Homo sapiens: one gene and its partners. The protein of the gene in region 3 interacts with the protein of the main gene of each other region in a pairwise test. Each region holds a gene or a part of one and is shown on either strand. Other genes may lie near its edges. The genes, in order: ACYP2, FLACC1 and SULT2B1.

What was found.
Region 1: the proteins of SULT2B1 (region 3) and ACYP2 interact in binary tests that used the Homo sapiens proteins (3 or more experiments, as listed by UniProt).
Region 2: the proteins of SULT2B1 (region 3) and FLACC1 interact in binary tests that used the Homo sapiens proteins (3 or more experiments, as listed by UniProt).

The regions. Positions count from the first base shown.
Region 1 is NC_000002.12:54,110,938-54,118,643, reverse strand, and holds the start of ACYP2 (acylphosphatase-2), read right to left. Parts: upstream 3,030-7,706; 5' UTR 2,946-3,029; coding exon 2,888-2,945; intron 1-2,887. UniProt on the Homo sapiens protein: Its physiological role is not yet clear.
Region 2 is NC_000002.12:201,354,304-201,361,600, reverse strand, and holds the start of FLACC1 (flagellum-associated coiled-coil domain-containing protein 1), read left to right. Parts: upstream 1-4,255; 5' UTR 4,256-4,619; intron 4,620-7,297.
Region 3 is NC_000019.10:48,547,759-48,555,225, reverse strand, and holds the start of SULT2B1 (sulfotransferase 2B1), read right to left. Parts: upstream 3,055-7,467; 5' UTR 2,974-3,054; coding exon 2,903-2,973; intron 1-2,902. UniProt on the Homo sapiens protein: Sulfotransferase that utilizes 3'-phospho-5'-adenylyl sulfate (PAPS) as sulfonate donor to catalyze the sulfate conjugation. Responsible for the sulfation of cholesterol.

The DNA of each region.
Region 1 (7,706 bases), on a different chromosome or scaffold from region 3:
TGTGCACAAAAGTGGAATTGTATAGTTAATAGAAATATATAATGTAATAGCAGATAACATCTTATAATGGGAAAGCACAACTTTTAAAGTCAGAGAGATGTAGAATCAAATCCCATTTGTCAACTAAGGGCTTGTCCAAGTTACTGAATCTCTGTGCACCTGTTTTGTCCTTGTTAAAACAGGAATAAGACATGCATCTCACAAAATTGTGATGATTAAGTAAACAACAGTGAAATGCTCAGCACAAAGAACACCCATAATAAATGTCACACATTCACACACACACACAGACTCCTTCACTACTGCCATTTGTCTCTAGTGGACCATTCTGTCAGGTGATCTTTGCCACCACTTTCGTATTTTACATTACGTGTTTTGGTGACTTATTGTGGCAGTTTTCAAAGCAGGATAACATACCGCTGGGTTCACTCAAAGACTTTCTAAAGAGTACAGATCCATGCATAATGTTCAGGGAATCAATTTCCAGATCTTCAACTTCCACATATATTCCTTCCTAAAACTGACCTGAGACTCCTTTCCTACCTCCCTTTGCACAATCATCCTTTGAAAGAAAGGTCTCCTGTTATCCTAAGTGAAGTAACTCATGAATGGAAAACTAAACATTCTATGTTCTCACTTCTAAGTGGGAGCTAAGCTATAAGGATGCAAAGGCATAAAAGAATGATACAATGGATTCTGGGGAGTCAGGGGGGAAAGGGTAGGACGGGGTGAGGGACAAAAGGCTACACATTGGGTACAGTGTAAACTGCTTGGGTGATGGATGCACCAAAATCTCAGAAATCACCAGTAATGAACTTATTCATGTAATCAAACACCACCTGTTCTCCAAAGACCTATAGGAAATAAAAATAAAATTAAATTAAAAAAAGATCTCTTTACAAAAGGCACACTTTTACCCATTCTTAATCTTACCCTGGTACACTGCACCAAAGTGTAAAAACCTCTAGAGTACCAAATACAAGGATAATTCAACTCTTCCACCAACCGAGGTTCCATAAACACCCCCAGTCTTCTCATTAATAAATTTCTGGCTGAGTGCAGTGGCTCACGCCTGTAATCCCATCACTTTGGGAGGCGAAGTGCAGGAGGATCCCTTGAAGCCAGGATTTCGAGACTTGCCTGGGCAACAGAGACCCTTTCTCTACAAAAAAATTTTAAAAATTAGTCATGCATGGTGGCATGAGCCTGTAGTCCCAGCTGCTTAGAAGGCTGAGGCAGAAGATCACTTGAGCCCAGGAGTTCCAGGCTGCAGTGAGCTATGATTGTGCCATTGCACTTGCTCCAGTCTGGGTGACAGAGCAAGACTCCATCTCTTAAAAAAATAAAATTAAAAAAATAAACTTCTAACACAAATTTACCTTTAAATTTTAATAATGTTTATCATACTTTTTATATTTTCATCTAGTGTTCTAATAATAATTTCAATAATAACTCCATCCAGACAAAAAATTTAATACTTGGAGCTGTTGAATACAATGAGTTCTAAATTTCTCTTCAAAGAATCAGTATGTCAGTATGCTCGGTTCTTTGCGCTCTAAAGTCTAGCTTCCTCGTTCTCCTCGCCTCTAGTTTCAGTAAACAACCTTTTCCACCAGTTCTAATCAGTAGTTCACCTCTATTCCTCTGGTCACCTGCTCCATCCTGAGTCACCCCTGGTCACCTGCTCTGACCTGAATCATCCTGAGTCACCTGTTCTGTAACCACCCTTCCTGCCAAATTATTCACCCCGCCACTTGAGCTCGTACGCCTGCTCTTTAAAATAGCCAGTCGGAATTAGCTTAGACTGTGCGGTCCAACCCTAGCCAGTAGGGGAAAGACACAGCAGTAGAGGCTACCTGCATCAGGAATAAGAACCCCTTCCCCTCCCCTGTTCAGGTGTGCCGTTGCCATTGCTTCATCCGCGAGTCGCACCCTTCTATAGAGGTAAAATTGCCTTGCTGAGAAAATTCTTTGAGCGCTAGTTCTTCTTTTTGGCACCAAAGAACCAGCATTTGTTTCTAAGAGAGCCTTATTGTCAAAGGAAATTAAGAAAAAGCATTACACTTATTCATACATGTGCATATATGTACATATACATATTGCAGAAAAGTATGATAGGGTGAGCAAAAAAAAAAAAAAAACCCTCAAGCAAAACAATGGGGTAATTCGGTGGGAAAAGTGAAATGAAAATCAAATTCAAAGAGGAAAAGAAATGAGTAAAATTTCCCATTGTTGAAGAGTTTTATTTTAAATGAAGATGGTGGATGTTAAATCACTACCCTATTTATATTCCATTGCATAAATCTCAGAGTGACTTAATATTTTCATTTATAAATATCAATATTTTCAACAAGCCAGACATTACAAACTTGGCAACTACTTAAACTTAGGATGAAACAAAAATTAGATAACAATTTCATTCTTTTAAGAGCTACAAAGAGGTCTAAAAAAAGGTTTGACCTCTGAAAAATTAACCTTAAACCATCTAAGTGTCCTTCCTAAAACTCAAGTCAAGCCCAGGTAGCTTCAGTGGCAAGCAACGAGACCACTAGTTAAAAGACCCTCTTCTTTTCCTACCCAACTTCAACATTCCCCCGTGCCGCTTACTCCCGCACCCAGCAGCCGCCCACTTCTGGTCCTCAGCAGTCCCCTGACCCCTCCTCTCCCGCTCCCCCACTTCCCTCCCCATTCCCGTACTTCCGCCCGTCCAAGTCCTCGGGCGCATGCGCGTTTCGCCTCCCTCCCCGCCGCCGCTGCTGTGTCATGGCGGAGCGGAAGTCCCAGCCACAACGGGAAAAGGCATACTTTAGGTGGGAGGCGCTTCTCACAGCTTTCTCCCCTTCCTCCCATAACCTTTTTGATCTCCCACCGTAGAGGGGCCTCCTACCCTGCACTCTTCCGAACACCTCGTAGTCCACGGATTTGAGTGACTGGGCGGTAGACATGGCGGCGGCGAGCCCTCTGTTGAGGAGCCGGAGAGGGGCTCGGGGCGCAGCGACTGCGGCGGCTGCGAGAGGGAGGGGACACATGGGACTGCTTGGCGCACCCCGCGCCTGTCACCGGTCCCGGACGCTAGCGCGCCGGGGTCACGCGTCGGAAGCGGCAAATGAGACTGCGGGGCCTGGGAGCGAGGGCAGCCGGGGACGCCAGGAGGGAAGAGGCCGCTGGGCCCCAGGCATCCTAGGCCTCTCTTCCCGGACTGGGGAGGATGCTGTCTCCACAGCGCTCCCTACCATTTAATTGATCAAGGTACTCTGTTCTCAAAGTTAGTAAATAAAAGCCGGATGCTGTGCCCAAAAAAAGAGTGGCTTCCCCCAGCTTTATTAAAGTGTAATTGACAAATAAAAGTTGGGTATATTTGTGGTGTACAAGGTGATGTTTTGACATATGTATGCATTGTGAAATGATTACATCAATGAAATTAACGTATCCATTGCACCATTTTTTAATGAAGAGAACATTTAAGATCTACTCTCATCAATTTTTAAGGACACAATACATTTATCGCAGTCACCATGTTAGACAACAGATCTTCAGAACTTATTATTCACACTAACTGAAACTTTGTACCCTTTGACCAATATCTCCCCATTTCCAACCCCTTTCATCCCCCATCCCAGGTCCCCCACCCCACTCCATCCCAGCAAGATTGGCTTTTGAAATCAAGGGCCTGCGTGTTTAGTGTTTTGAGAGTTAGTAAATTATTTATGAAATGTTTAGGTGACTACCAAGCCAGCTTTTAAGATAAGGTCTGCAACATCTTGAGCTCTTCTGTACAGTCAGGAAGGAATTGAGCCTGAACTCGTATTCTAAACGGATTGTGATATTTTCTGGGATAAGAAACTTTTTAAAAATATGAAGTCTTTTATGCTAGTGGAAACAGACAAAAGAAAAACACTGTAGTCATCTTGTCTGCTGTTCATACAGTTTTTTTGGTGTGGGTTTGTTGCTGTTGTTTTGAGACGGAGTTTCGCTCTTGTCTCCCAGACTGGAGTGCAGTAGTGCAATCTCAGCTCACAGCAGCCTCCACCTCCCAGGTTCAAGAAATTGTCCTGCCTCAGCCTTCCAAGTAGCTGGGATTACAGGCATGCGCCACCTCACCCAGCTAATTTTTGTATTTTTAGTGGAGACGGGGTTTCACCATGTTGTCCAGGCTAGTCTCAAACTCCTGACCTCAGGTGATCCACCTGCCTCGGCCTCCCAAAGTGCTGGGATTACAGGTGTGAGCCACCACACCCGACCTTTTTTTTTTTTTTTTTTTTTGATTGTCTTGATTATTCTCAGCAACATCCCAATTGCCTAGAAGGTTAAGGCTGAATTTTATTTCCTGGTGAGCTATTACCAAGTTTTAATATAAAACCATCCACCACTCCAAAGGATCTGGATACAGCTATTGATAATCTGCCACCTTCTAGAATTCCAAATCTGTTTACTTGTGAGAATTTGCATTTCTCTATTTGTTGGCCTCAATACCTTGGCATATTTCTCTGCATCTGGCCACACAGTTAAAATAATCCACTGCAATCTGATTCAATATACTGTGCCAATTCTATTAGAGAACACCAAAAATCATCCAAAACTTGGTTAGAATATGGTTAAATCATTTTTAAAGTAAAATATATTCTGGAAATGCTAGTGCAGTTAATTTATGTAGTGAAGGTCTTAGTTTATTGCAGAGACCTCGTAACTTAACTCTTCCATCTCCCAGTTCATTCCATGCAGACTCTAGAATCAACATAAATTTTAAATCATTCTTCTTAATACGTTCAAAATAGAACCTAAGGTCTTCAGCCTCCACTACCTGCTTATGCAAATCCTGCATTTAAACTATAGTCAAGACACTCTCGGTTATTCTGCTCTCTCAGTACAGAGGTTTAAAACAAAGAACCTCTTCTCTTGGGTCTACTCTATCTGGAATGCCTCCCCCTTCTCCAAAATCTTCCTCTATCCCGCTCAGTCATCTCTGCGAGTGGTTACCAGATTTTATCCTAGTTATTTAGTGTGCCTTCCCCACTAGTACAGTCAGCCATCCATATTAGCAGGTTCTGCATCCATAGATTCAACCAACCTCAAACAGAATTTTTTTTTTTAAGTATCTTGGCCTGCACGGTGGCTCACACCTGTAATCCCAACATGTTGGGAGGCCAAGGCTGGCGAACAGCTTGAGCCCAGGAGTTAGAGATGACCAGCCTGGACAATACAGTGAAGCCCCGCCTCTATAAAAAATACAAAAATTACCTGGCTGTGGTGGCCTGTGCCTGTAGTCCCAGCTACTTGGGAGGCTGAGGTGGGAGTAGGATCACTTTTGCCCAGGAGGCAGAGGTTGCAGTGAACCGAGATGGGGCCACTGCACTCCAGCCTGGGTGACAGAGCGAGACCCTGTCTCCAAAAAAAAAAAAAAAAGTCATCTCTACTGAACTCATGCAGACTCTTGTTTCTTGTCATCATTCCCTGAACAATACAGTATAATAGCATTTACATCGCATTAGGTATTTTAAATAATCTAGAGATGACTTAAAACATACAGGACAATATGTGTATGTATGTTTCTATTAGGAACTTGAACATTCCAGGATTTTTATATCCAAGGGGATTCCTGGAACCAATCCCCTGCAGATAACAACGGACAACTATAGCATAGCTTCTAAGTAGTCACTGACTGGGAAGGTTGACATTTTCCTTTTCTTAATCTTTGACTTTTCTCCACATTTACCCAAGAGTACCCCTGCCAATTATTAGGTAGGTTTATTTGAATTTTAGAAGTGCTATAGCAACAATTGACATTTGCTTAGCTGAAAAATTTGCTGTGTCTGCCAGCAGTCTAACATTAGCAAACGGAAATTTTTATGTACCATTTCGGCATGGATTGCCAATAATATGTGATTCTAAGTCTTTAGAAAATGTACGCAAATGTTTCTAATATATGTTTTAAGTAATTATAGTATGAATGCAACTTTTATTCTTCTTTTCCATGTTGTAGTCTTTCCAATGAATATTTTAATAAATCACATTAGGTGGATAAACCACACATTTACCTACTGTGAGTCCCTGTTGTTACATATTCAGGCTGCTTCTCATTTTTCACTACCATAAAAAAGAAAATATTTATGCATGTAGCTTCCTTCCCACATATTTTTAATTGAAGTTGGAATATCAAATCAAGGGTATAAGCATGTATTGTTCTTGATATATATTGCCAAACTGTTTTTCGAAGGGCTGTGCCAATTTAAATATATTACTACCAAGACTGTATATGATTATTTGGCTTTTTATACAAACAAATGTATGCAGGTCCTTCACGTACAATGCATGATTAAATTATATGAAGCTTTGGTTTTGTAACCTGAGCAACAGCTTTGGAATAACTAGGCTTTGTGTTACTACTGGTTGAAATTAAAACCTGTTAATTCCCTTCTTTGAACCCTTTAAGACAATTGGTTTGTGATCTAGGATCATGTTTAAGGTAATACATAGAAAGGGAAAATCCTGCTTATATAATATGACTGTAAAAGATGACCAGGCACCAGAATCTGTAAAATAAGCATAGATAATACACATTTACATGTGTGTATTATCTATATATGACAATAATACATATGATAGATAATACACATCTCTATATGTGTATATCTAATAAGGATAGATAATACACAGAACCTGTGAAATAAGGATAGATAGTACTCTGTGTCCAAATGACATTTGAAGTGAGGAGGTACCGCCTGTAACTCTCAAATTCATCACCACATGGGGTCATTTGAAAGTGATTGCTAGAGTTATTTCTCAGAAATTTGATATTAAGATATGATTGATTTTAAGGACAAGCAAAATTACTTTATCCATCGGCATATTTCTATCCCTGAAATATTTTTGTAATCATTATGTTGAAAGTGCAGGACCCAACATGATACAAATTGTTAACTTCCATTCAATGATTCCCTGTGGAAGGAATACTTTATAGGTAAAATAAATGCTTAATTATTACTAAACTGGATTCAAAATTATTAGACAGCAGACTGTTGGTCAGCTGAGCAAGTAGCTGGTTTCCCAGAAGAGGCTTTAATCTTATTACAAGTTATCAGAAAATTGCTTAAGCGTTCTATCAGCAAAGCAGATTTCTTTCCAGAAGGAGATTCTGTCCCAGGTTTGAACCAATTTTTCTTTGTCACAGTCCAATTTAATATTAAAAAGTCAGAAGGATATGTAACATTAAAGTGTCTTCCCTCTCCCAGCTTGGTACTGAGTATGCTGAAGTGAGGAGAGGGCATGGTTGGTCCCCCCCGCCCTTGCCTTAGTTTCCCCCTACCTAGCTGAAAATGGGAACAAACAAGTACTTTTGAAATCCATTTAGGCTCTCTGGGAATGGTGAATATTCAAAGCTGACTACTTATTTTGCAGGATTCTTTTTGTAGGGACTCAGAGCTTCACCCCACTTGGAATTCTTGACTGCTGCTCCCTTGTTAGGCTATGCCAGTTCTCTCTACAGCCGTATCCCAGCTTCTGTATTAAGTGCCCCATCCCAGCTTCTGTATTAAATGCTACACCTCCAACCTCTTTCTGCTGAAAGAGACTAGCCCCCAGCAAGAAGGCCATCTGGGTGGGATCCATTTTAAACTGACCACAGGACCACATCCCTCCCTCCCATCATATCTAGTTATGGAGGCTCATATCTCTGCCCTACCAGTGATAGAAGTCACAGATTGCTCTGA
Region 2 (7,297 bases), on a different chromosome or scaffold from region 3:
TCCATCTAGATCTACATATATATAAATGTAAGGGTACTCAGGATGCATATTGCACAATGTTCTTCAGCCACCATATGTAGCTCTTGCAAATACCATTCCTGTATGCGAATACCTGTGGAATTGCAAATTAAGGCATTAAAAGAAGCAAAAAATGGGTGCTCAGCACCACTGGAAAATATATTTCATTATGCACAAATCTTGCATTCATGCTATCTGAGAGGTTTTGACAGGTTACCTTTCCTCTTACCTTACTGCTGCTGCCCCAGTCTTTCCTGCACTCCAAAGCAGTGTCTGTGTCTGATCTCAGCAGCAGCATCACCCACAAACCTTTACAGTATTTGGGCACAGTCATCTTTTGTTTTGAAGGTAAAGGGTAAAAGATGTGGTGAAGCATTCCCTGAGACCTGAATGTGGTTAATGATGAGAGTGAATCTTTAGGGTTATGGTTCCTGCTGTTTCAGAGCTGAGCTCCAGATCAAGGGCCCGTGTGTTTTTGTTTTTGTTTTTGTTTTCTTCCTCTTCTGAGATGGAGTCTTGCTCTATCATCCAGGCTTGAATGCAGTGGCACGATCTTGGCTCACTGCAACCTCCGCCTCCTGGGTTTGTACAATTCTTCCACCTCAACCTCCCGAGTAGCTGGGACTACAAGCATGCACCACCACACCCAGCTAATTTTTTTATTTTTAGTAGAGACGGGGTTTCACCATGTTGACCAGGCTGTTCTTAAACTCCTGACCTCAGTTGATCCACCCACCTTGGCCTCTCAAAGTGCTGGAATTACAGGCATGAGCCACTGCACCCAGCCCGGGCCCACGTATTCTTGAACAAATGTAGGTTTCTGTGTGTGCCTGTCCTATGCAGAGCCCTCTAAAGCCCAGGGCTCAGAACAGTGGCCCCTCTTTCTAGGTGCAAGGGTAGCACTACAGGCTTTCACGGGATTCCTGTGGCTACCTGGTCGGGTCTATTCAGGATGATCCATGGGAGTTAGCATAGCACCACTCTAAAGTCAGATGTTGAAAGCCAAAGATCAAAGAGAGTTGAGCAAGTGAGCAAGTTGGAGATAATTACAAGCTTCTTAAGAGAACACTGTCTTTTCCACACTGGGAGTGTTCTCATAGAGCCACAAATAGCGCTCCACAGATGGAAAGCCTCCGAATGCTCCCAGCTGACCATGTTTGCCACTTCGTGAATGCTGCAGCATCACACAAGAGGATATCTATTTCCCCAAGCCCTGTGCAGACCAATTTTGATAATATTGCTGTCAGAATTAAGTTGCAGTTTCTCTCATTCATTTTTCAACTTATACTTTGTTTTACTATTGGTGGCCTCCTCCACCTCTGTTCCAAATAGTAAGACACTTTGCTTTAGGCGAAGTTACTGAGAATGCCAGCACTTCCCCAATTTCATCCAAGAGAAGAGCACTTAACACTTAGCCCCTAAACACCTTCATTTCCTTCTCCTCAGCTGTTTTGGAACTGGCGAAGCTTTACTCATGTCCAAAAAGATGAAAGGAGAATGGGGATACCCAAGTAGTAGTAATTAGTGCTGAGCCTTTGCCAAGTCGAGTGGCTGGGGTATTCCTTCAGCACTTACTTCCTCTGTATCTCTGTTTTTAGCCATGCTTCACTCAAGACCCAAATCCTGCTGCTTTTTTTTTTTAATCATAAGAAAGGATTTAAATATAAAATTTTACACATTAAACACACTCAAAGTAAATATTCAATCTCTGGATGGAGACAGATTGTCTAGATGACTAATAGAGTCTATCAATTCTTCTCTAAGTTATTTCCCTCCTTTTAATCTTTGAAAGTCTCTCTTCATCTAGCCTGTTCATGGTGCTCAGAGTTGAAGCAGCCATAGTGCAACCAAGACGCTTCCCTCCATCAACACACCGAGGCTGGCATAACAGAGAGATGGAAAGAGCCCAGTTCTCCAAGGACATTGCTGAATCTTTGCACCAACTCTGATAGCACTGCCTCCAGACTCTATTTCATGAGGTTAATAAACCTCTTTGATGTAAGCCACTTGCAATCAAGCAACAGGTCTATGCATTTTAACTACACATGGCCCACACTGAGAAATCTTGTCGTAAATACTGGTGTCCTCAGAGCTCTGTTCTAGACCCTCTTCTCTCCTTACACAATACTCTCTCTATATGTGATCTCACTCGCTCCCTTGGCTTGGAATAGTATCCACTCTGAAGACTCCTAAATCTGCTTCTAGGCCAGAATCTTCCTCTGAACTTCTAAAATATGTAAGAAACTCTAACAGACGTCACCACTTGTCTATTAGTCTCCCTGCACCTCAACATATCCAAAACTGAACTAATAATCTGCTCCCTAGAACCTGTTTATCCCTCCACACTTTCCTATCTCAATAAATGGCACCACGGTCAACTCAATTGCTCGAGCTGGAAAGCCAGGAATCATCACCTTCTCCTTTTCGCTCATCCCAGCATCCAGTCAATCACCAAGTTCTATCATGTCTTCTCTCCATCCCCACTGCTGCTCCTCAGTCAGGGCCATCGTCAGGTCCCATGACGACCACTGCCACAGACTTTTACCTGGTTTTCCTGGCCCTTCCAATTGCTTCCCTATATTGCAGTCAGAATGATCTTTCTGATATGTAGATCTAGTCAGATCTCTTCTCTGTTTAACACTGCTGCCTGACTCACTGGACTAGAAGAGTAACTCCTGCTATGAACTCCCACTGCTTCTGGCAAGTCTCAATATGAGTCATTGTGGCTGCATGGTGACTTACACCTGTAATCCCAGCACTTTGGGAGGCCGAAGCAGGAGGATCACTTGAATTCAGGAGTACAAGACCAGCCTGGACAACATAGCAAGGCCTCATGTATACTAAAAGTCAAAAAAATTAGCTGGGCGGCCGGGCGCAGTGGCTCACGCCTGTAATCCCAGCACTTTGGGAGGCCGAGGCGGGCGGATCACGAGGTCAGGAGATCGAGACCATCCCGGCTAAAACGGTGAAACCCCGTCTCTACTAAAAATACAAAAAAATTAGCCGGGCGTAGTGGCGGGCGCCTGTAGTCCCAGCTACTTGGGAGGCTGAGGCAGGAGAATGGCGTGAACCCGGGAGGCGGAGCTTGCAGTGAGCCGAGATCCCGCCACTGCACTCCAGCCTGGGTGACAGAGCGAGACTCCGTCTCAAAAAAAAAAAAAAAAAAAAAAATTAGCTGGGCATGGTGCTGTGCACCTGTGTAGTCCCATCTACTTGGGAGTCTGAGGCAGAAGGATCGCTTGAGTCCAGGAGGTCAAGGCTGCAGTGAGCTATGCATGCAGCCTGCACTGCCACTGCCACTGCACCGCAGCCTGGGTAACAGAGTGAGCTACTGTCTCAAAGGAAAAAAAAATTAATTATGCTTTTATTGAGCTTTTTTATTGTCTGTTTTCTCATTGGTCTCTAAGTTGTATTGAGTATAAGAACTGAGGTATATCCCCACACCTAGCAATAGTGCCTGGCACACAGTAGACAACAAATGTGAAGTTGAGTGAATAGATGAATTTATAACAATATTTTGTAAGCTAGGGGTTGTGACCCACCAGGATCATGAAATCAATCTAGTGGATTATAATCAGCTTTAATTTAAAGAAGAAAAAGAAATAGAAGAGAATAGCAAATAATAAGAGTATTATTTCATGAAATTTTTTTATTACAAAATTTGTAAAATGTATTTCTTATAATGAGTGGCAGTAAAACTAAAATGAAAGCCACTGGGTTGTAATAAGCAAGTACTTTTTTCTATAGTAAGAAAAAGCAGCTTTATTTAAAAAAAAAAATCGGAAAACCTTGTGACTGCAAAAGATTCCTGCCTTGGGGGATTTTTACTTTCACAGATTTCAAAGCCTTAAACTCGAGGGAAAAAAGTGTCTAGAGTTTTAGGTTTCTGTGAGTAGATCACAGAGGAATTAAAAATCCATCACAGATCCTGCCTGGTAACTATTGCCATAGACCAATGAAGCCTAAAAGTGCTGTTGAATTCTATTTCCTCTGAAGATATATCTTAAACTTTTTTGTCCCATGACTGATGACGAAAGTGGAAATCCAGTGTTAAAAGTATGAATTCTTTGCTGTTGAGGGTGGTCACTGATTTGTGTCTTGGAGAATTTAATTGGCTGTTTCTCCCAACCTTCTCTCTTGAAGAAAAGAGCCCTGAGCCAATGAGGAGCTACTGTTCTGTGTCCATAGCAACAAAATAAACAAACTTTGGCCTGCCATCTCCCAAGGGCAAACCTCACAACTCAGGCCCAAGTCACAGGAATCTGAATGGTGGGGTGACCTTCTCCTCTAGTTTAATTTCATTGCAATACTGAGAAACTTCAACTGTTTTGTCTTTAGAAGGGAAATTCATGTTTGTGCCAGGCCAGCCTTTGTAAAAGCCTTTGATTGGATTCACTAGAAGTCTGTCTTCCCGCAGTACATATACTGTGAATTTTCTCCTTCGGCATTTCAACCACTTGGAATGGCCACTAAAGTGGCTTTTGATCTAAAGTAAACTCTGATTCTGTGTTGATGGGGAACCATTTCTCTCTAACATGGTGGTTTCTTTAAGATGTTTGACTTGGGCCACATGAGAATAACAGATCTTTGGGCAGTCCAAGGTAAGCTCTTTGGAAAAGATGTTTTATATTATTTTTTCTACTGATTATTAATACTAACCAGTAACTTCTCTGAAGCCTCTGCCGGCTCACTGGTGACTATTGTTAGGGCAAGCCTCAGGTAAAATCATCAGGTAGAAGTGCAGGAAAGGGAAAAAAGGGGGAGAAAAAATCCTTACACACACTCACACACCCCTCTATAATTAGAGCTATATGATGTCAAGCCACTGTAAATGCAGATCTATCTGTGATGACATGGAAATATCAACTAGATATCCTGTTACACAAAAAGAACAAGATGCAACATTGTGTGCAAAGTATGCTCTCACTTATGCAAATAATTTAAAAAATCTATTATGCTTCTCTACAGGTTAAGTTCTATATGCAAAACATTTAAGGTTATATGCACTCACAACATTTCTGGAAGGATGCCCCAAAAATCTGTTAGAAGTAGTTCCCACTTAAGAAGCTATGAGAAGTCAAGGGCTGATTTTAGCTACTGAAATATTAAAATACTGCCATATAGGCAGGGCACGGTAGCTCACACCTGTAATCCCAGCACTTTGGGAGGCTGAGATGGGTGGATCACCTGAAGTCAGGAGTTTGAGACCAGCCTGGCCAATATGGTGAAACCCCATCGTTATAAAAATACAAAAATTAGCCAGGCATGGTGGCGGGTGCCTGTAATTCCAGCTACTGGGGAAGCTGAGGCAGGAGAATCGCTTGAACCTCGGAGGTAGAGGTTGCAGTGAGCCAAGACCACACCATTGCACTCCAGCCTAGGCAACAAGAGCAAAACTCCGTCTCAAAACAATAATAATAATAAATAAAATACTGTCATATTGATTGGTAGATGACCATTGTCCAAGCCCCTTGCATGTCCTCCTTGCCACCTTGGTTGTCCCAACTCCTCCCCTGGCACCCCCAGACCACCTCATGATTCAGCAACTAAGGGGTTAATGCCTGGCATGGAGGTGGGAGTGAGATCTCCCAGGACCCTGTTCCAACCCTGGTTGATTATTCAATAGCCTTGTCTTACTGGTTGTTAAATATTTTGAGTATCACTCCCATGGGTGTTCAAAGAAAAAGGCCTTTATTTTTATTTTATTTATTTATTTATTTTTTAGAGACAGGGTCTTGTGCTGTCACCCAGGCTGAAATGCAGTGGTGTGGTCCTAGCTCACTGCAACTTCAAACTCCTGGCCTCAAGTGATCCTCCCGCACCACCTGCCAAGTGGCTGGGACTACAGGCACACTCCACCATACTAGGCTATTTTTAAAATTTTTTGTAGATACAGAGTCTCGATATGTTTCCCAGGCTGGTCTCAAACTCCTAGCCTCAAGCGACTCTCCCACCTCAGTCTCTCAAAGTGTTGGGATTACAGACATGTGCCACCACACCTGTGAGGCCTTCTTTTTTTTTTTTCTTAAGAGCAAAAGAATATATACCAAGACATTGTTTATCATGGGAAAGAGGAAAAGGAAACAACTACACATTCATCAAAGATCATTGAAAATCTATGTAAAACTCCACTGAGTGATTGTATCACCCATACAATTTACCTCTGCTTTCTGGCTTTTGAATGCAAATGTTTAATGTTATTTATAATATGGTAATGACGATTACAACATTTTGGCAGTTTCATCTGTGAATCTCTTTTCTCTTTGTTTTTGTTTTTTGTTTTATTCATTTATTTATTGAGACAGAGTCTTGTTCTGTCATCCAGGCTGGAGTGCAGTGGTGAGATCTCGGCTCACTGCAACCTCCACCTCCCAGGTTCAAGTGATTCTCCTGCCTTAGCCTCCCGAGTAGCTGGGATTACAGGCATGTGCCACCATGCCTGGCTAATTTTTGTGTTTTTAGTAGAGACGGGGTTTCGCCCTGTTGGCTAGGCTGGTCTCGAACTCCTGGCGTCAAGTGATCCTCTCGCCTTGGCCTCCCAAAGTGCTGGAATTACAGGCATCAGCCACCATACCATCTTTTTCTCTTTGTTGAGCTAGCCCCAACCACCATGATGAGCTGATTACAACCACTAAGTTTACTAGTCAGGTAAGAAATATTCATCAAATGCCCGTTGTGGACAAGCCACTTTGCAAGGCTTAGTGGAGGTGTTGAGGCACAGAGAGCACTCCATAGTGGAGTCCTGGCCTTCAAGAAGAGAGAAGGCAGTTGCTAGAAGTGGGCCTGCCTTAGCCTCTCACTTCTTGCCCCATGGACTCCTGCTAAATCTCCCAAGTTCAGGGTTGGCTCCTTTCGTACAGGAAGCAGATACAAGGTTCTAAGCAGAAGCAGTTTCTTTTTTGCTACTGTTGTAGCCTTCTTTCAGACTCTCACCTGAATTCCAGCCCCTTGTAGCATCATCTTCCCACCTGGGCACTCGATCCCATCTGCTTCTCTGACCTCATCTCCTTGACTTGGCCCTAACAGGCCCCCAAACCCAGTGGAGTATGGACAGTTATAAATGGCGGCCCTGTCACCTGCTCTTCAGGCCTTTGCTGTTTAGCCAGTCTCCTGGACTCCTTTCTAGCCCTGGACTCCTTTCTAGCCCTGACCTCTATTGCAGAAGACTCCCTAGTCCCAGGCCTCTGGCCCAGCCAACCCCTGCACACGCTGCCTTTCTTCCAAGGCCAGGTCTCTTGCCTTTGCTCCACTGCTCACTTAGCTCTCTTTCTGCCGACTC
Region 3 (7,467 bases):
CAGCTACTTGGGAGGCTGAGGCAGGAGAATCGCTTGAACCTGGGAGGCCGAGGTTGTAGTGAGCCGAGATCGTGCCACTGCACTCCAGCGTGGGCGACAGAGTGAGACTCCGTCTCAAAAAAATAATAGTAATAATATTAACTGGGCGCAGTGGCACGCGCCTGTCATCCCAGCTACTCGGAGGCTAGAACCTCAGAGCGCCCGCTTCACCTCCCATCTGGGCTGAGTCTACCTCCTGGATCTCGCTCCTTCCTGGTCTTGCTCATCATCCCTAAATTCCCTGTCCAGGGCATGATAACAGTCAGGCTTCCCTGGTTCAAATCCTGGCCGTGCCCTGCTTGGCAGCTGTGTGACCCTAGGCAAGTTACTCAACCTCTCTGGGCCTCATCTCTGACACAGGATGACAGCAGTCAAAGTGGGTTCATCTCAGATGGCTGTGAGGATTAGATGAGGTAATACACCTGAACCTGGGAGGCGGAGGTTGCAGTGAGCCGAGATCGTTCCACTGTGCTCCAGCCTGGGTGACAGAGCCAGATTCAGTCTCAAAAAAAAAAAAAAAAAAAAAAAAAAAGCAGTAGAGTAGCTGGAATGCAGGTGAGGAGGCTGGGGGGGCGGGGTGGGTGAGGGCTGGGCGCTGAGGAATTCACTGGATGGCTGGGAGGAGGGGAGGAGCAGCCTGGGACAGCCAAGGCTGGAGTGGTGAGGTTGGGGGGAGATGAGGAGGCCTGAGCTGGGGCTGTGGCAACCGAGAGGAAGAACCAGGGCAGAGAGTCAGGGGACAGGGGTGGGGGTTGGGGACTGACAGGCTGGGGGCGAGCAGAGGGGGAAGTCGGGGCCAGGAGAAGCCCTGTGGATCTGAGCCAGTGATGGGGAGGGGACATCCCTGAGATGGGCAACCTGGGAGGAGGTGCGAATCTGGGGGGGTACGTGGCGTATCTGAGGGGGTCTGGGAGGGGCACATCCCGAAGGAAGTGGGCCCCAGGGGGATGCTCCAGCAGGCTCGCTGGGGAGAGGCACGCTTCCAGGCCTGGGGGATTCCAGAAGTGCCTGGAAGTTTGAGGTCCTAAGGGCACCCCCCCAGGGCTCTGCAGCCATCAGGGCTGGAGGAGTCTTGCAGGGGAGGGCTATTCTCCCCCACGATGACGAAACCGAGCTTCGCAGAGGGTCAGTGACTAAACCAAGGTCACCCACTTAGCGAGGTCACTCAGGGCGTTTTATGACCAGCTGGCAGAGCCGTCGCGGAGATAAAAAAAAGGCTCCCAGGTGCCTGGCTGGGGTGGGGGTGAGGCCTTCCCAGAGGCGGGAACCCTGGAGGCGAGCTGGCTTATCTGTTTATCTCTGGAGAGAAGAATTGCAGAACTCAGAAGTCCTGGATTAGACAATGTTGAGTAAAGAATGCTGGGGCCTCCCTCACGCAGAACTGGGCCAGCCTGGTCACAGCTCTCAGCCCAGGAGGCCCAGAGACATCAGGAAGCTTGTCTAGGTCACACAGCAATCAGGATTGAACTGCTCCTGTCTCTGGAGTCCCAGGCACCCAGGAAGGCCTCTTCATGCCCCAGCTTCTGGCTGAGGGAGGGGAGGGGAGGGCCTGAAACAGTGGAATGAAATGAGGCGGCCAGGCGTGGTGGCCCACGCCTGTAATCCCAGCACTTTGGGAGGCCGAGGCAGGTGGATCACCTGAGGCAAGGAGTTCAAGAACAGCCTGGCCGACATGGTGAAACCCTTTCTCTACTAAAAATACAAAAATAAAATTAGCCGGGCATGGTGGCGGGCTCCTGTAATCCCAGTTACTTGGGAAGCTGAGGCTGGAGAATCACTTGAACCCAGGACGCGGAGGCTGCAGTGAGCTGATATCGTGCCATTGCACTCCAGCCTGGGCAACAAGAGCGAAACTCCATTTCAAAAAAATAAAATAAAATAAGAAAGGAATGAGGCAACTGGGCTGAGAACAGGTCTTGGTTGTCTCCCTCCTCACAGCCCACGGTGGCTGGAGGGGCCCAGGCTGCCAGGAAGGTCTCACTTGGCAAGAGTGCAAGATACGAGGGGTTGGAGATTGTCTCAGCAGTTTGCTGTGTGATCTGGGGCAGGCTGCCTGCCCTCTCTGGGCCTCTGCGCTCCCCTAAAAGATGGAGCCACGGGGAGGGGTGTAAAGGGGACATCACCAAGGCTGTGAGGAGCAGGAGAAACCACAGGCTCTGGCGTGAGACAGACCGGGTTCAGATTTGCTTCTAGCTGCGTAATTGCGGTCATGTCGCGTTCCCTCCCAGCCTCAGTTTCCCCATCTGGAAAGCAGGTACTGTCAAAGTGTCTGACTCATCCCCAGGAAGAGGGAGTCACGCTGAGCTCATGGAAGTGGGCAGTGCTCTGCCCTAACCACTGTTAGGAGACCTGAAGAGTCCAGAGCCTGCCCTCTCCGCCCCAAGTGCCCTAGAACACAGCTTCTCCCTCTGGGGGTCTCAGCAGCATCCCAGTCTCTCCCATTTCACCCCCAAGCACCCCCGTTATTTCAGGGCTTGCATGGGGTGTCCTGGGTACTACAGGCTGTTGTGTTTCCTGAGCAACTACTATGCACCAAGCTGCCTGCTCTCTTCCACTGCTCTATCAGGGAGACACAGGGCTTGTGGGCCCCTTTGACAGACAGAAAAACTGAGGCCCGGAGAGCGACAGGGACACCCCAGGCATCCCCACTGGTGACTCAACACGGTCGGGTCCTCACTCCCTTCTCAGGAGGGACCTATACACCACACTGGATGCCCCAGCCCAGCCCAGCCCCTCCAGCTAAGTCTGGGCCAGGCCTGCGGCTGCGGGTGGCTGGAGGCCACCCTTGCCACAGTCCCCGGCTCCCCCAAACAGCCACCTCCTCCCTGGGATCTCCTGGCTCCTGCCCAGGTCTGGGCCTCACCTGATTTCCGAGATGTCATCTTCATAGGTGTCCCACAAGCCCGGGATCTGGGGCTCGGCGGGCCCGTCCATGGCAGGTGGGTGAGGGTGGGGAGGGGAGGACGAGCAGGGAGCAGGCGGCACAGAGGCCAGGTGTGCGCAGCGACAGCGTCTGCCACCTGGGGAGCCCGCCAGGTGCCTACTCCGTGCCCGGCCCAAGGGGAGGGGCAGCACCCAGCCGGTTCTCCCAGCTGCTACCCACGCCTCCAACAGCGGGGAGAGGCCAGAGGGAGCCACCCTGCTCTGAGGGCGGGGAGGAGCAGTGATGGGCACGTCCTGGCGTCTGGTGCTCAGCTGGGGGCAGAGTCCAGGGGGTCAGTGCCAAGCCCACGCCAGAACCTTCCGGGCTGGCAGTTCTGGGCCTGTGGGCACCCACCTGGAGCCCACGTTGCTCATTTGGGAAATGGCGCTGATCTCGCCCATCTCAGCGAGTTCATTCATTCATTCATTCATTCACTCATTCATTCCTTTATTCATTTGAGAAATATTTACTGAGCATCTCCTGTCTGCCAGGCGCTGTTCCAAGCACTAGGCCACCGCTGGGGAAGGGGCAGACAGAAACTTGCCCTCACGGGCTGACGCGTAAGGGGCACCCTGGAAACAGACACAGGGACAGAGGCACAGCCAGGACCACGGCAGCACAGACAGGGCGGGAGCCAGGGAGAAAGGGAGAGGGCAGAGGGCATGGGAGACAGAGACCAGGAGGGGACTGAGATGCACAGGGGCCAGAGACCTTGAGAGACGCAACAGAGATACACGGAGGGCGGAGACAGAGACACACGGACACCCAGAGGAGACAGAGACACACAGGGGTCAGAGACCCTGAGAGACCCAGCAGCGATATACAGAGGGCAGAGACAGAGATACATAGAAAGGTCAGGGACAGGGAGAGACACAGATATGAGAGACAACTGCCAGATATGGTTGGGCGTGAGAGTCTGAAGGTCACAGCCCTGGTTCAAATCCCAGCTCCAGTGCCTCCCAGCTGTGGGGCCGGGAACCATCTTGCTCATAGGCTCATCTTGCCTTAGTTTCCCCATCTGTGAATGGCACCCATCGGGCTGTTGTGAGGACTGAGGGAGACACTCTCAGCTGCTGGTGGAGGATCTGGTACACAGTGAGCTCAGCATAGACGGTGTTCTCTTCTCTTCTGCCCCCACCCCAAACCCTGGCCCTCCCCAGCTGTTGGTCCCTGACCCCTCAGAGTCCTGGAGTCATGAAGCCAGTCTCCCCACCAGTGGTGGCAGGTGCCTGTAATCCCAGCTACTTGGGAGGCTGAGACACGAGAATCGCTTGAACCTGGGAGGTGGAGGTTGGAGTGAGCTGAGATCACATCACTGCACTGCAGCCTGGGCGACAGAGAGAGACTCCATCTCAAAAAAAAAAAAAAAATGCCAAAAGAAAGCCTGTGCAATGGCTCACGCCTGTAATTCCAGCACTTTGGGAGGCCGAGGCGGGTGAATCGCCTGAGGTCAGGAGTTCAAGACCAGCCTGGCCAACATAGTGAAACCCCATCTCTACTAAAAATACAAAAAATTAGCTGGGCATGGTGGCAGGTGCCTGTAATCCCAGCTATTCGGGAGGCTGAGGCAGGAGAATCACTTGAACCCTGGAGGCAGAGGTTGCAGCGAGCCAAGATTGTACTGTTGCACTCCAGCCTGGGCAACAAGAGTGAAACTCCATCTCAAAAAGAAAAAAAAAAAAAGCCAAAACAAATAAAATTGTATATACTGACCAATTATTGTTGCATAGGTGAGGGGGATGGAAGACGTCAGACTCACCTAACAGATGCAGGAAGGGGGCCCAGAGAGGTAATGTGGCTTCCCCCAGGGCACACAGCACTGCCCGCCTTCACTCTGATGGTAAGCAGAAAAGGAGGGTTCTGGGGTATCCCATCTCTCAATTCACCACCCCAAGACCCGTCTCCAGGAGGCTGAGCTGTGGGAGCACCCGCCCCTGCCCCCAGCCACTACCGAGTCCACATCCTCAACATTCTGCCTTGATACTTTCAGTGTTAAGCCTTGATGTTCCTGCTGATAAAAAGGCTCTCTTGCAGGGTGGGTGGAAGGGTGAGAGGGCCAGGCATCCCCCTCTGAGGCTGAGTGAACCCCTCTGATGTCGGAGGTGGGGGACTGAACCATGACACCCCACCAGGCCTCCGGCTGGGCTGTCTTCACCTTTGTTTTCTATTCAATGACCCTTTGTCCCTGGCTCTGTGTGCTGCTGGGGTGGGGGGTTAGGGAGAGTCTGGGGAAGGGAATGCCCAGGTCCTTAGGGATCCTGAGAGGGAAACTCGCAGGCAGGTGCGGAGGCATCCCCGGGGCACAGGAAGGTTGGGGAGCAGTAGGGCCTGAGGTTGTGCCTGAGTGGGCAATGGAAAGAAACTGGCCAAACTAGGCGGCCTAAGACCCAGGGGAGGCTCCTACTGCAGGGCCTTTGCCCTTGCTATTCCCGCATGTTCCTGATACCTGGGAGCTTCGTGGGCTCCTATCGTCTGACTCTGCCCAGTGTCACCTCCCCCAGGCTCGTCCACCAACTTCTCCATTCCTCTTTCCTGTTTTACTTTTTCCCATAGCACTCGTCACCATCTGACCTCCTAAATGTTTTGCTTCTTTGTCTTGTTTACCATCTATCTCCCCACTAGACTGTCAACCCCATGAAAGAAGGGCTTGTTCTATGTCAAATCTGCGGTTATTTCCCAAGGGAAGAGCCTGGAATATAGTAAATGCTCAATAAGTGCCTGTTGATGGAATGAATGAATTGTCACAGGAAGACGTGATGGAATGAGTGAAGGTCATGGTGGTGCCAGGAGAAGTCCACTGAATCTCTGTGGAGAATGAGGAGGGAGCTGAGGAGATGCAAAAGCCTGATTCTGGAAGGCGAGGGGTCCAGACTCCTACAGAGGTGGCAAGGAGGAACCAGAAGACACCAGAGTGACATTTTAGCCAATTGTGAGAGTGCAGAGATACTAGTGGAGACCATCAACCCCCAGAAATGAATCTGAGGGTCTTGGACATCTGGGAGACAAGGACGAGACCAGAAGGATGAAGGAGTGGGCTGGGCTTGGTGGCTCATGCCTGTAATCCCAGCACTTTGGGAGGCCCAGGCGGGTGGATCACGAGGTCGGGAGTTCAAGACCAGCCTGGCCAACATAGTAAAACCCCGTCTCTACTAAAAATACAAAAATTAGCCGGGAGTGGTGGTGGGTGCCTATAATCCCAGCTCCTCAGGAGGCTGAGGCAGAGAATTGCTTGAACCCAGGAGGTGGAGATTGCAGTGAGCCGAGATTGTGCCACTGTGCTCCAGCCTGGGCAACAGAGCAAGACTCGGTCTCAATTAAAAAAAAAAAAAAAAAAAGATGAAGAGTGTGGGAAAATGCAAGTGGAAAACCCAGAGCCACTTGGTCATGGGTAGTGAGAGGAGCAAGGATTATACATCCATTCATCCCTCCAGCTGTTCATCCCTCTATCTATGCATCCACCTGTCCCTCTATTCATCCATCATCCATCCACCCGACCATCCACCCAACCATTCATTCAGCCACCCAACCACTTATCCAATCATCCATTCAACATCCATCTATCTACCCATCCAACCATCCATCCCTCCATCCATTCATCAGCCATCAAACCATCCACCTCTTCATCCATTCATCATCTATCCATCCATTCATCCATCCAACCATCTACTCAACCATCCATCTATCCAGCCATCCATCACCCATCCATCCATTTTCCATCCATTCATCTAGCCACCCAACCATCCAACCATCCATCTATCCATCCATCCTGCATTCATTCAGCCATTTATTCATCCATCACCCAACCATTCCTTCATCTATCCATTCATCCATCCATCCTGCCATCCATTCATCACTGTCTATCCATTCATCCATCCAAGCATCTACTCAACCATCCTTCTATCCATCCATCCATCCTCTATTCATCCACTCAGCCAGGTATCCATTCAACCAGCCATCTATGCATCCATCTTTCTATGCATCCTCCATCCATTCATCCATCCATCCAACCATCTACCCATCCATTCGACCATCCGTCCATCCATCCATCCATCCATCCATCCATCCATGCATCCACTCATCCATTCATCCAGGCATCCAATAGTCTATTTTTCCAACTAATATCTGTAGAGACCTCCTCTGGGTCAGTCTCTGATATTGTGTCCACAAACAAGACATGTAAGTAAATGGCTTACATCTGTGCTGTCCATCCCAGAAGCCACTGGCCATAGGTGGCTATTTAGCACCTATGTGCAATGTGACTGAGAAAGTGAAAATTTTCCATTTTATTTCATTTTAATTAATTTAAATAAATTTAATTTAAAAAAATTAAAATTAATTTAAATTAATTAAAATGAATTAATTTTATTTCATTTTAAAAATTTTTAAAAAATAAAAAATTATTTCATTTTAATTAATTTAAATGAAATTAAATTTTCATTTAATTAATTCCATTTTAATGTACCTTTTCGAAATTGAGCATCAAAATTGAGATACAAAGCATATAA